Homo sapiens: one gene and its partners. The protein of the gene in region 4 interacts with the protein of the main gene of each other region in a pairwise test. Each region holds a gene or a part of one and is shown on either strand. Other genes may lie near its edges.

Region 1 (3,315 bases), on a different chromosome or scaffold from region 4:
AAACTCTGCTCATTTTTCAGGCCCTGCTTCAATGCCACCACCTCCGTGCAGCCTCCTCTGATGTTTGTCATTAGCTTAGCTCTTTCGTGTGTGCTCCTGCACCACTGATCCCTTCCACAACATGGACTGTCTGTGATGCACGTGTGCAGGATGCTGGGAGTGCCCAGGTGGAAAGACACACGTGCTGCCCCCAGGAACTGACTGACTGGTAGGCACAGTACAGATACCAGTGGTGAGGACAGTGAGGATTCTTCCCTTCTGACCCTTTGCAGATGGTAAAGGAAGGAACTCATCACCTAATTCCCCCGACTGCCCCTTGAGAACAAAATCCCTTGAAAAATTCCAAAAGCTTTAACTCTGATAACTGTTAAGGCACTAAACAAGAGGATGATGGGGCAAGGAAAATGGGGGCAGTGTAGTGCAGAAGTCTGACCCTCAAGAGCAGAGGAGCTTGGTCCTAGCCAGTTTGGTTTCAGGCCTACAGTGGCATTTGGTATTTTGAGCTCACCTCTCTTTTTCTCTTGGAGTGACTGCTTCCTGCATCTGCTGCATCTCCGTGGGCTCCCCTCAGACCCTCTTCTGAAGGCCTGGGGTGTCTCTCCTGCCACCATGCCTGTGTCTGCAGGTGCCTGCCACCAGCCCCAGTCTGCTGCACGGGCCCTGGCGAGTAGAAAGCACTTGCCTTCTGACCACACGGGGAGCTGAGGGTCAGAGACGGAACCAGGGCTCGACCCTCCACCTTGAAACCTTGAGATGGGGATGCTCCTCATTCTAGCCAGCTCCTCCTCAGCTCTCAAAACAAGGAACAGATGCTCAGGAAACCAGACCTGGACAAAAGGCATCTGAGCCTGGTGTGAGGCAGATTCCAGAAGTTTAGTTACAGACATCCTTTATAAGGAGTCTTCATCGGGAATTCAAGACAACCTGGTGATTCATTGAAATTTGCCTGTGAAAGAGAATCTACATAGACTTCCTGCCACCTCTTGAGATGTGACAGTTGCTGACCCTCCCGCCACCACACAGGGCGAGCCCCTAGCCCTGAGCTTGAACCGTGTTGCTTGCACAAATAGCTGGGTGATTTAGAAGTGAGGTCAGCTGTGCCAGCGGTTACAGGGTGGTGGTTGTCTGTAACTTTAATCCACTGACTGTTGTACTAGGGCAGTTTGGGCTAGACACTTTGGAGGAGCTCCTGTGAAGGGCATGAAGGCTCACTGTAGCAGCAGCTCAGTTGTCTTTCAGAGTTCTGCCCTTAAGAGCTGGTTTGCAGTGCTCATCCTTCTTGCTGATATTTTAAAATAGGTAGAAACAGGCTGGGCGCGGTGACTCATGCCTTTAATCCCAGTACTTTGGGAGGCCTAGGCGGGCAGATCACCTGAGGTCAGGAGTTCGAGACCAGCCTGACCAACATGTTGAAACCCCGTCTCTACTAGAAATACAAAAATTAGCCAGGCGTGGTGGTGCGCACCTGTAATCCAGCTACTCAGGAGGCTGAGACAGGAGAATCATTTGAAGACAGGAGAATCGTTTGAACCCAGGAGGTGGAGGTTGCAGTGGCAGTGAGCCAAGATACCGCCACTGCACTCTAGCCTGGGCAACAGAGCAAGACTCCATCTCAAAATAAATACATAAATAAATAAAAATAAAATAGGTAAAAACAAATTATAAAGTAATACAATTATGAACTGCAAATAATAAAACATAAAAATTACTTTAAAAAAATTTAAAGAGGCCGGGCACAGTGGCTTATGCCTGTAATCCCAGAAATTTGGGAGGCCGAGGCAGGAGGATCACTTGAGACCGGGAGTCCAAGACCAGCCTCGTTAATATAATGAGAGCTTATCTCTACAAAAAATAAACAAAATTAGCCAGGCATGGTGGCATGTGCCTGTAGTTCCAGCTACTCAGGAGGCTGAGGTAGGATCACCGGAGCCCAGGGGGTGGAGGAGCAGTAAGCCAAGATTCTGCCACTGCACTCCAGCCTGGCTGACAGAGTAAGACCCTATCTCAAAAAACAAAAAGCAGAAAGAACAAAGAAGTAAACAGAAGCTTAAAAGTAAATCAGCCAGGTGCAGTAGCTCATGCCTGTAATCCCAGTACTTTGGGAGGCCTAGGCAGGCAGATCACTGCAGGTCAAGAGTTTGAGACCAGCCTGGCCAACATGATGAAACCCTGTCTCTACTAAAACTACAAAAATTAGCCAGGCATGGTGGTGCGCACCTGTAATCCCAGCTACTCCGGAGGCTGAGACAAGAGAATCACTTGAACCTAGGAAGTGGAGGTTGCAGTGGCAGTGAGCCAAGATAGCGCCACTGCACTCCAGCCTGGGCAACAGAGCAAGACTCCATATATGGAGATCCCTTGAGATCAAGAGTTCGAGACCAGCCTGGCCAACATGGCAAAACCCTGTCTCTACTAAAAATAAAAAAATTAGCCAGGCATGGTGGCGCACACCTGTAGTCCCAGCTACTGAGGAGGCCGAGACAAGAGAATCACTTGAACACAGAAGGCAAAGGTTGCAGTGAGCTGAGATTATGCCACCACACTCCAGCCTGGGTAACAGAGTGAGACTCCGTCTAAAAAAAAAAAAAAAATCAGGGGCAGTTGTGATGGCTAACACTTGTAACCCCAGCACCTTTAGAGGCCCAGGTGGGAGGATCCCTTGAGGCCAAGAGTTTGAGATGAGCCTGGGTAACATAGGGAGAGCCTGCCTCTACAAAAAAAAAAAAATAAAAAAATAAAAATTAATGCGTGCGTGCTACTTGGGAGGCTGAGGTAGGAGGATTCCTTGAGCCCAGGAGTTTTGAGGTTACAGTGAGCTGTGATTGAGCCACTGCATTCTAGCCTGGGTGACAGTGAAACCCTGTCTCTAAAAAGTAAATAAATAAATAAAAGTAAATAGTAACTAAAGTAAAACTCTAGAAACATTTACGGTTACTACAGAGGAACTTTAAAACAGTTTAAGCAATAAATACAAGAGGACTAAAAAACACAAAAGTTTTTACAATTTCTAACAGACTGCATCAATTGGCAAATTGATTCCATTTATGATTGTTAAAATAGGTGAATAAGATTAGATGACAAGATAACAAAAAAGGAATACGTTATTTATTTGTTTATTTCAGACAGAGTTTTGCTCTTGTTGCCCAGGCTGGAGTGCAATGGCATGATCTGGGCTCGCTGCAACCTCTGTCTCCCTAGTTCAAGCAATTCTCCTGCCTCAGCCTCCCAAGTAGCTGAGATTACAGGCATGCGCCACCAGGCCCAGCTAATTTTTTGCATTTTTAGTAGAGACGGAATTTCACCATGTTGGCCAGG
Region 2 (3,500 bases), on a different chromosome or scaffold from region 4:
AATTTATGTCTTTCATCTCATAATTGAACTGCAAAACCTTTCTGTTTTTAATTTATCATTTTATTCCCTAAGTCTAGCATTGGTTTTGGCACATTTTTGACCCTTAGTAAATACTTGTTGAAGTAACTCGACCTCTCACAACTTCATTTATTAAAGTACAATACACCCATTTATTGTACTTGATACTTGTTTAAAATTTGTTAAAATACAATACCCCCATTTATTGTACTTGATATTTGGTATTCATTTTCTGGACTAACTTTCCTAAAGGAGGAAGTTCTCTAATGTGATTCCTCCTGCTGAAGACTATCGATTCCCTATTTATTCAATCCAGATTCCGTTTGATGTTATACGTGAAAAGTCCATAAACTGTTTCTGTAAAGGGCCAGACGGTAAATATTTTTGGCTTTGTGGGCCATGTGCAGTCTCTGTCACATTCTTTCCCAGGCTGGAGGGGCAGTGGCGCAATCTTAGCTCACTTCAACGTCTGCCTCATGGGTTCAAGCCATTCTCCTGTCTCAACCTCCTGAGTTGCTGGGATTACAGGCACGCCCCACCACTCTTGGCTAATTTTTGTGTTTTTAGTAGAAGCAGGGTTTTACCATGTTGGCTAGGCTGGTCTCAAACTCCTGACCTCAGGTTATCCGCCTGCCTCAACCTCCCAAAGTGCTAGGATTACAGGCATGAGCCACAACACTGGCGTTTTAAGTGCCTTTAGTTTTAACAGTTCAGTCTTTACAGTGCTATTTACTGAAGTTATTTATTAAATATGCCTAAAATAGTTTTAAAAAACGTAAAAAACCATTCCTAGCTCAAGGCCATACAGAAACAGAATGAGGACCATAGCTTGCCAACCCTTCCTAAGTAATCAATTCCCCAGGTGTATCAATTATTTTATTTTCATGTTATCTTCTCTGGTCAGATAGCCGAGCATTGTCTACCTTCTGCATTAGTTGAAACTTGTAAAATTTATATTGTAATAATTACTTATAAAATGCTTTAAAGCAGAAACAACTTAATGTTTTCATAGCCCAGAGCACATGTGAGGAGAGGCAGACCATATTTTGCAGCAGCACTGTGCCAAGGGGCTGTTTTCATTAAAGAGGGTTAATGACATTAAGATGAGGTTCTCACTTAGGTAAGTTAATTTTCTGTTTATTATTTTATAATATTCTTAGGGCATTGTTTTAAGATTTTATCGTCTTGAGTATCTTTAAGCTTTAACAACTCATTTTTGATGTTTGACATGTATGCTAATTTAAAAGTATTGGTAAAGTCAGCTAAATGCATTCACACATCTAAAAAGGACTATTTTCTCTGCTTGAATGCTTATTAGAACTACTTGGAGCCCTTATTCCTCCCCCACCCCACCCCATGTTTTAAAAGTTATACAAATCATCGTTAGAAAATTAAAGATACATCAGTCTAAATATGTAGGTCTTGCTTTAGTATCAGGTTCGTCATTTCAAGCCATTCAGCCTTATTAGTGTACAAAGCACATTTAGTTACTTGGAAAGCAGGCATTCTGATTTATTGATTGTGGGGGGCTATCTTCCCTCCCTTTGTCCCTCTTTTAAGAAATTGAAAACATTTAAAATGTAATTAAGAACTTTAATCATTTGTTTTTAAACTTTTAGGCTAGTGATACAGAGCGAGATGGACTAGCCCCAGAAAAGACATCACCAGATAGAGATAAGAAAAAAGAGCAGTCAGAAGTATCTGTTTCTCCTAGAGCTTCAAAACATCATTATTCAAGATCACGATCAAGGTCAAGAGAAAGAAAACGAAAGTCAGGTATGAATTCTTAAAGGTGGTTACAACTCTCAGCATTTGTATAAGATATGTAGACCTGTTGTATAAGAAGACACATACATTTAGTTTGTTGGCTGGGCATGGTGGCTCAAGCCTGTAATGCCAGCACTTTGGGAGGCCAAGGCAGGCAGATCACCTGAGCCAGGACCAAAAATACAAAAATTGACACACTCTCAGCCCAATGCAACCTCCATCTGCTGGGTTCAGGCAGTTCTTCTGCCTCAGCCTCCTGAGTAGCTGGGATTATAGGCGTGCGCCACCACGCCTAGCTTATTTTTGTATTTTTAGTAGAGACTGGGTTTCACCATGTTGGAACATATCAAATATAATTCAACCTGTTTATTTTCTTTAGTTTTTATTTTTCTTAATGGCTTACCTCTCTCTATTAAACCCCCTTATGAATTTGCTGTAGACTAGGAAACTAGATGGGCTGGTCAGAATATATGTAAAATACTGAAAGTCTATGACCGTTTAAAAGATGTATCTAGGCTGCTTTATGTCCTGGTTTGCTCAGATTGCTTGATTTGTTTCACATGTGTGTTGTATTAATGTAGAATAATCCCACCCGTGCCATGAAAAAATTAGTCATTGGAAGAAGACTAATGGGAGTCATTTTTCTCCAGCATTAAGAGTTTTTTAAGATGAAATGTTTCTCCAACTTTGTTTATGGTGATTATTTTTTTTGTGTATTCACAGATAATGAAGGAAGAAAACACAGGAGCCGGAGCAGAAGCAAAGAGGTAATTAACACTTTGTAGTGAATAGGTACTTTAAAATACTTATAAAGTGTCTGGTAGAAAGATTTGTATGAATATAAGACGTTGTCAAGGTAAGTACAAAACTTGAAATTTAAAAGGTTTATTGGGTTATAAAATAAGCATGATTTTGATTCATCATTTTTGAAGAAGATGTTTATGTGAAAAGTACCTTCAAAACTTTAATTTTATTATATTGTGAAAATATTCACAATAAAAATTTCATATGAAGAATATGATTGGTTTTTTTAGGCCTGTCACACAGAGCTTCCATTAATCTGAGGTCCCGAGTCTCCTGGTGCCTGACAGTTGCTCAGGATTTTTAAACAGCAATCATCTTTACATAGCAATACCCTAGATATCTGTGCGCTGCTTTTTCCTTATGAACGATAACAGGAGTTCTCTTTTCTTTTGCAAACTAGTTCAGTTTCCCTAATAGTAGTATTGAATTTTGAAATAAAGGTTTGAGTGAGGGACAGCTGAAAAGGTGGCGGTGACACCAAAACTTGAGGAAAAAGAAAGGCAGCAGCTGTATTGCAAAGGAGTTACTTGTTCACCCACCTGAGAAGACAAAGAATGAGCCAATAAGGAAGTGTAGAAGTAGTAGCCAGAAAGGGAGAAGAGTCTTGTGGGGGCTGGGTAAGGGACTCCTAAAACAAGAGTGGGCAGGGACTTCACCTCTTCCCGTAATGGAAGCTCTGTTAAATTTTTAATTTAGGAGAGTTTTTGTGAAAATGACTATTTTGTTTAGCTCACATGATAACATTTCTATAATAAATCATACTCAGCGTGCTTATGCGCGAAGAGACTGAACTGAAGACGCTGCAGACTCAGATAGCAAAATAATAAGCCTACTTCATGATAAGGTAACTATTAGTCATTCAAACTCCTATTTCCCTTAAATATATCTTAAATCAGTTAAGGGTTTTAATG
Region 3 (2,508 bases), on a different chromosome or scaffold from region 4:
GCAGTTTCTGCTGGCTGCAGGGAGCCGGGAGGTCACCCCGGGGGCTCAGCCCGCCCCGCCGCCCTCCCCAGAGCCCCGGTGCCTCACCTCACCAGCGTGGCCTCCCCCGAGTACTTGAGGTCTTCCAGCTCCCGCTGCAGTTGTTGCTTCTCCTGCTTCAGCCTCACCAACGTCTGCTCGTTCTCGCTCTTGAGCGTCTCCAACTGCGCGAAGGTGTCGCCCTGGGCCAGGAACCGCCGCACCAACGACTGCGGGCCACCCAGCCCCAGTCAGAGCCAGGGCCTAGGGAGCGTAGGGGCGCTCCACCTCCTCTCCCCCACCCTGCGAACCCTCGCACGCAGGACAGGTGGCCTGAGCTGGCGCCTTTTGCACAGCAATGTATGGGGACACTGTGGGTTGGACGCAGGGTTGCTTCAAGGGTGAGCAGCCCTGGATATATCATTTTTGCGGGGCCCTTTCTGGCCTATATAAGGAATTTGAGTCAGCCCAAACTCGGGGGCAACTGGAGAGGCGAGCATAGCTTCTTTCCAAAATCAAAGTGCCATCAATTTCTGGCCGTGAATCTCGCCCGATTCCGCAGGAAATACCGCCCGTCTTCGGAGCCATCCGCTCACAAGGCCCACATCTGGAAAGGGGCTGCGCCTCAGTGCCCCAGATGACCCCATAGGTGTACTCCTATAGGTGGGAGTCCCGGAAGTCATCAGGGGTCGGCCCCATCGGAGGAGCAGCAGGTTGGCGGACACCCAGAGGGGAGAAACAGGGTTGGGGTCCAGTGTTCACCGGCGGGAACCAGGACCCAAGGGGGACACAGCGGTCTTAGAATAATGCAAGGAAGACTTTACAGTGAGGGACCCGGCGCAGGGACCCCACTTGCCAGGATCTGAGGATGGTACTGGGCGGTCCACTGGGTCCCAGACCATGTTACAGACACTGGAGACAGAACAAGAGACGAAACTCCCAGTTCTCCTAGAGCTGGCATGGCAAAGGAGTTAGCATGGTGCAAGAGAGAACGGAAGGCGAGTGTAGAAATGACGGCGAGTGTAGACAGCTCCTAGGGGTTTTGCTGCGAAGGGCAGCAGAAAAACTGAACGGTAGCTGGAGGGGGAAGGGATGTTTTTCAAGAAAGGAGCAGGTTTGTGAGCTGAATAACCGACCTGGCAGAGAGGGGAGACAGGGTGTGTCGGTTTCACCGGCTTAGGCACCCCTGGGGCCCGTCTGGGGTGGGGGGGGGGCGCGGCGGAGAGGGCTGCGGGCAGAACTCACGTGCGTCTCGTCAGTGCCAGTGGCGTCCTTGACCTTGCCAAAGATCACCTCCATCTGGTACATGCTCCAGCGCTGCCGCAGCTCCTCCTCCTTGGCATGCAGGCTGTCCTGGATGGTGTCGTCGGACTGTAGCAGCAGGTGCTCGCGGTGGGTCTGCTCGTGGGTTGAGGTCAGAGCCAGGGTCAGCTGGTGGACAGCGCTTGGGAAGGAGGCCGGGGAGGGGGATCCAGATAGGGGCCCGCGAGGAACAGGGCTCAAACTGGAGGGAAGGGAGAGGGCAAAAGCTTGGGGCCAGATAAAGGCACCCGGGCAGGTGTCAAGAAAGTGGGACAAGGTCGGGCGCGGGGGCGGTGGCTGTGGCTCACGCCTTTAATTCCAGTACTTTAGGAGGCTGAGGCGGGAGGATTGTTTGAGCCCAGGGGTTCGGGACCAGCTTGGACAACACGGCGAGACCCCGTCTCTACAAAAAACACCAAAATTAGCAGGGCGTGGTGGGGCGCCTGAAGTCCCAGCTACTTGGGAGGCTGAGGTGAGAGGATCACTTGAGCCCAGGAGGTCGAGACTGCAGTGAGCTATAATTAGTCTGAGCGACAGAGACCGTGTCTCAAAAAAAAATCCATATATATATGTATATATGTATATATATGTATATATGTATATATGTGTATATATACCTATGTGTATATATGTATATATGTGTATATATACCTATGTGTATAAATATATATGTGTATATATACCTATGTGTATATATGTATATATGTGTATATATACCTATGTGTATATATGTATATATGTGTATATATACCTATGTGTATATATGTATATATGTGTATATATACCTATGTGTATATATGTATATATGTGTATATATACCTATGTGTATATATGTATATATGTGTATATATACCTATGTGTATATATGTATATATGTGTATATATACCTATGTGTATATATGTATATATGTGTATATATACCTATGTGTATATATGTATATATGTGTATATATACCTATGTGTATATATGTATATATGTGTATATGTACCTATGTGTATATATGTATATATGTGTATATGTACATATGTGTATATATGTATATATGTGTATATGTACATATGTGTATATGTATATATGTGTATATATACATATGTGCATATATACATATGTGTATATATGTGTATATGTGTATATATGTATATGTGTATATGTACATATGTGTATATATGTATATATGTGTATATGTA
Region 4 (3,500 bases):
ATTAAAGGGCTAAAACTTTCAGCCCCACCCACCAAGAAAGTAAGGGTAGGGAGGTGGAGATAGAGCTCTATGCAAATTCTTCAACAATAAAATTAAGAAAACTCAAAATGAAAAGCACATCTGAGTGTTAGGAGGGTTGTGCGCTGAGGAAACCTGGATGGAACCTTTGAGCCCAACTTCCATCCCCCACATACCCATACCTTGTGCCCTAATAATTATCTTCCAAGCATTTGTCTGTTTCTGAGTTGTATCCTTTATAATAAACAGGTAAACATAAGTGTTTCCTTGAGTTCTAGGTGCCATTCTAGCAATTATTGAACCTGAGGAGGAGGTCAGGGGAACCCCCAACTTAGAGCTGGTCAGTCAGAAGTACAGATGGCCTAGAACTTGTGACCAGTATCTGAAGTAGGGGCAGTCTTGCAGGACTGAGTCTGCTAACTTGTGAGATCAGACACTAACTGTAGGTAGGTAGTATCAGAAATGAAGCTGAATCTTGGACACAGAGCTGGTATTGGACAATTGGCTGGTGTCAGAAAAAACAGTCCAGATTATGCCAGCTAAAGGAAGAAATAATAAATACACACACCAGACTATGCTTCTAATAATCTTTCCAAAAGACTAGTTTAAGTTTTATTAACAGGAAGCAGAATTCACCTATAAACACTGGGTACAAGAGGGCTGATACTGCCAGTCAAGGAGACAGAGAGCCAGGGAATACCTGGAAATAGATTTCTCTTTGGAGGACTTCAATCAAGGAGAAACCTAACAGAGCAACAGGATGACCAAGTGCTTACCACAAAGTGTTTACTTCGTAAAATTACATAACCAACTAAATGCATTCAGTTCTCACTTACTGAGCACTTTTTATATATGCCAGAGACTGTGTTACATATGTATTGAGAATAAGGCAACAAGAAAGACATCCTCAGAACTCAATCTAGTAGGAAAGACAGACAAGAAAATAAATGTCTATACAGATGCTAAGTACTTCAGTAAAGAATATTCACAGGATATTATGGTAATATAACCCAAGTGGAATGGCTACTTTCAGAAGAAGAGATAACACTTAATGAGTCTGGAGCATAAATACTTTGGCAAGGAAACGTGAAGAAGGTTAGGAGGGGGACTGAATACTAGGCACAATGAACACCATATACAAAAAGCACAAAAATAAATGTATTAATGCATTCTTGAAACCACAAAAACTTCAGTATGACTAACTACAGTAGCAGATAGCAGTGCTCACCAAACATTTCATTTTGCAGCCTTATTATTTCTTTTGCACTTGGACAGGCCTATGTGAAATGCCAAAGGACTACAAGAAATGATATATGCCACTTCTGGCCAAAGTATAGCAGGTTCAACTTAAAACCCTGTAGCTGTCTCTTCTGCCGTGTTCCAAATGGTAGAGCTATAATACAGCAGAATGAAAAATGACTTTCATTAGCTTGAGTCTCTGAGGGACTATATGGATGGGCACCTTACAAACCGGTAAAAAGCGTAGCATGCAGAAAAATGCAGCAAGAAATGAAGCTTTGTTGTAATAAGCCACTGAGTTTGGCTATCTATTATCAAAAGAAAATGGATAACAGCACTTTGGCAGATCACAAATTCAGGAGATCTAGACCATCCTGGCTAATATGGTGAAACCCAGTCTCTACTAAAAATACAAAAAAATTAGCCGGGCGTAGTGGCACACTCCTATAATCCCAGCTACTCGGGAGGCTGAGGCAGAAGAATCGCTTGAACCCAGGAGGCAGAGGTTGCGGTGAGCCTAGATCGCGCCACTGCACTCCAGCCTGGGCGACAGAGCAAGACTCTGTCTCAAAAAATATATATATATATATTCCACAGAACCTCAATATATAAATCTAATACAGGCCAGGCACAGTGGCTCTCATCTGTAACCCAGCATTTTGGGACACCAGCAGGACACCGTAAGCCAGGAGTTTGAGGCTGCAGTGAGCTATGGATGGCATCACTGCACTCTAGCCTCCGTGACTGAGCAAGATCCTGCCTCTCTTAAAAAAACAAACAAACAAACAAACAAAAACTAATATAAGAAAAACAAAAGCAGTTTTAGGCGAGGCTGGCTTCCCAGACCCCCTTCCATGTGTTCAGGACAGTTACAAAATAACTAATGCAGTCTGATCCCTTCCTTTTACAAATGAAAAAATTATTATTCAGGGACGCTGGCTTACGATTAATAACCAGCTAATCTTACTCATACTAAATTATGTGGTAGTCAGATCAGGTATACACAAACTACATCTCTTTCATCATTAAAAAGAAAGGCGCCAACTGATATGTAAGAATATCCATATCCCCAACTACTTCCTTAATATCTACAATTATAGGAATGTATGTTTTTTTTTTTTAATTTTTGTTGTTAAAGTGACATAATGTTTTATTTTCTCATTTTATCTGAAACTACCCAGGAAGGGAAAGGAGTATTTTTTCCCATCCCTACTGGAATGACTAAAGACACTTACCTAAACCAAAAGGGTTGCTAGTAGCAGAACCAGATGTAGAGTTACTATTAGGAGTTGATGATGTAGTAACATTGCTTCCAGCTGTATTTGTTTGCTGAGCTGAATGATCCTGAGGCCTAGGGAAAATAATTAATCACAGAGTAAGCAGTAGAGCTGATTATTTTTAAAAGAACCACCAAAGGCCAGGCACAGTGGCTCACGCCTGTAATCCCAGCACTTTGGGAGGCCGAAGCTGGCTGATCACGAGGTCAAGAGATAGAGAACATCCTGGCTAACACAGTGAAACCCCATCTCTACTAAACATACAAAAAATTAGCCGGGCGTGATGGCGAGTGCCTATAGTCCCAGCTACTTGGGAGGCTGAGGCAGGAGAATGGCGTGAACCCAGGAGGCGGAGCTTGCAGTGAGCGAGATCGCGCCACTGCACTCCGTCCAGCCTGGGCAACAGAGCGAGACTCCGTCTCAAAAAAAAAAAAAAAAAAAAAAGAACCACTGAAATCCTGACATCTAGAAATAAAGGGTAAACTCTCAGACCAAATCAAATTATCATTTAGTAAAAAGCCTGAGAAAACTAAGCATTAGGAACAAAAAATACAAAATAAAATAAAACCCTACAAAATACAAAATATGCTGCAATTGCCCCTCCTCTTTGAGTATAATGTACACAAATATTTCATTAGTTTCAATCATATTGCTTATGTAAGAGATGGAGGTAGGTTATCTCATAAGAGGGAAGCCAATGACCAGTTACACCCACAAAGCTTGACTATATAAAAAACTTTTTTATCTTGGCCAGGTGCGGTGGCTCACGCCTGTAATCCCAGCACTTTGCGAGGCCGAGGCAGGCGATCAACTGAGGTCAGGAGTTCAAGACCAGTCTGGCCAACATGGTAAAACCCTATCTCTACTAAAATACAAAAATTAGCCGGGCATGGTGGCACATGCCTGTAATCACAGGTACTCAGGAGGCTGAGGCAGGAAGACTACTTGAACCCAGGAGGCGGAGGT

What was found. Proteins that work in one complex are often made in the same cells at the same time.
Region 1: the proteins of UBQLN1 (region 4) and RABL2B interact in binary tests that used the Homo sapiens proteins (3 or more experiments, as listed by UniProt).
Region 2: the proteins of UBQLN1 (region 4) and RSRC2 interact in binary tests that used the Homo sapiens proteins (3 or more experiments, as listed by UniProt).
Region 3: the proteins of UBQLN1 (region 4) and ODAD3 interact in binary tests that used the Homo sapiens proteins (3 or more experiments, as listed by UniProt).

Annotation. Positions count from the first base shown.
Region 1 is NC_000022.11:50,770,322-50,773,636, reverse strand, and holds part of RABL2B (rab-like protein 2B), read left to right. Parts: intron 1-3,315. UniProt on the Homo sapiens protein: Small GTPase required for ciliation. Activated in a guanine nucleotide exchange factor (GEF)-independent manner via its intrinsic GDP for GTP nucleotide exchange ability.
Region 2 is NC_000012.12:122,520,437-122,523,936, reverse strand, and holds part of RSRC2 (arginine/serine-rich coiled-coil protein 2), read left to right. Parts: intron 1-1,637; coding exon 1,638-1,794; intron 1,795-2,504; exon of another isoform or gene 2,505-2,508; coding exon 2,509-2,552; intron 2,553-3,355; exon of another isoform or gene 3,356-3,425; coding exon of another isoform or gene 3,426-3,433; intron 3,434-3,500.
Region 3 is NC_000019.10:11,422,614-11,425,121, forward strand, and holds part of ODAD3 (outer dynein arm-docking complex subunit 3), read right to left. Parts: intron 1,417-2,508; coding exon 1,264-1,416; intron 249-1,263; coding exon 88-248; intron 15-87; coding exon 1-14. UniProt on the Homo sapiens protein: Component of the outer dynein arm-docking complex (ODA-DC) that mediates outer dynein arms (ODA) binding onto the doublet microtubule. Involved in mediating assembly of both ODAs and their axonemal docking complex onto ciliary microtubules.
Region 4 is NC_000009.12:83,680,459-83,683,958, forward strand, and holds part of UBQLN1 (ubiquilin-1), read right to left. Parts: intron 2,609-3,500; coding exon 2,493-2,608; intron 1-2,492. UniProt on the Homo sapiens protein: Plays an important role in the regulation of different protein degradation mechanisms and pathways including ubiquitin-proteasome system (UPS), autophagy and endoplasmic reticulum-associated protein degradation (ERAD) pathway.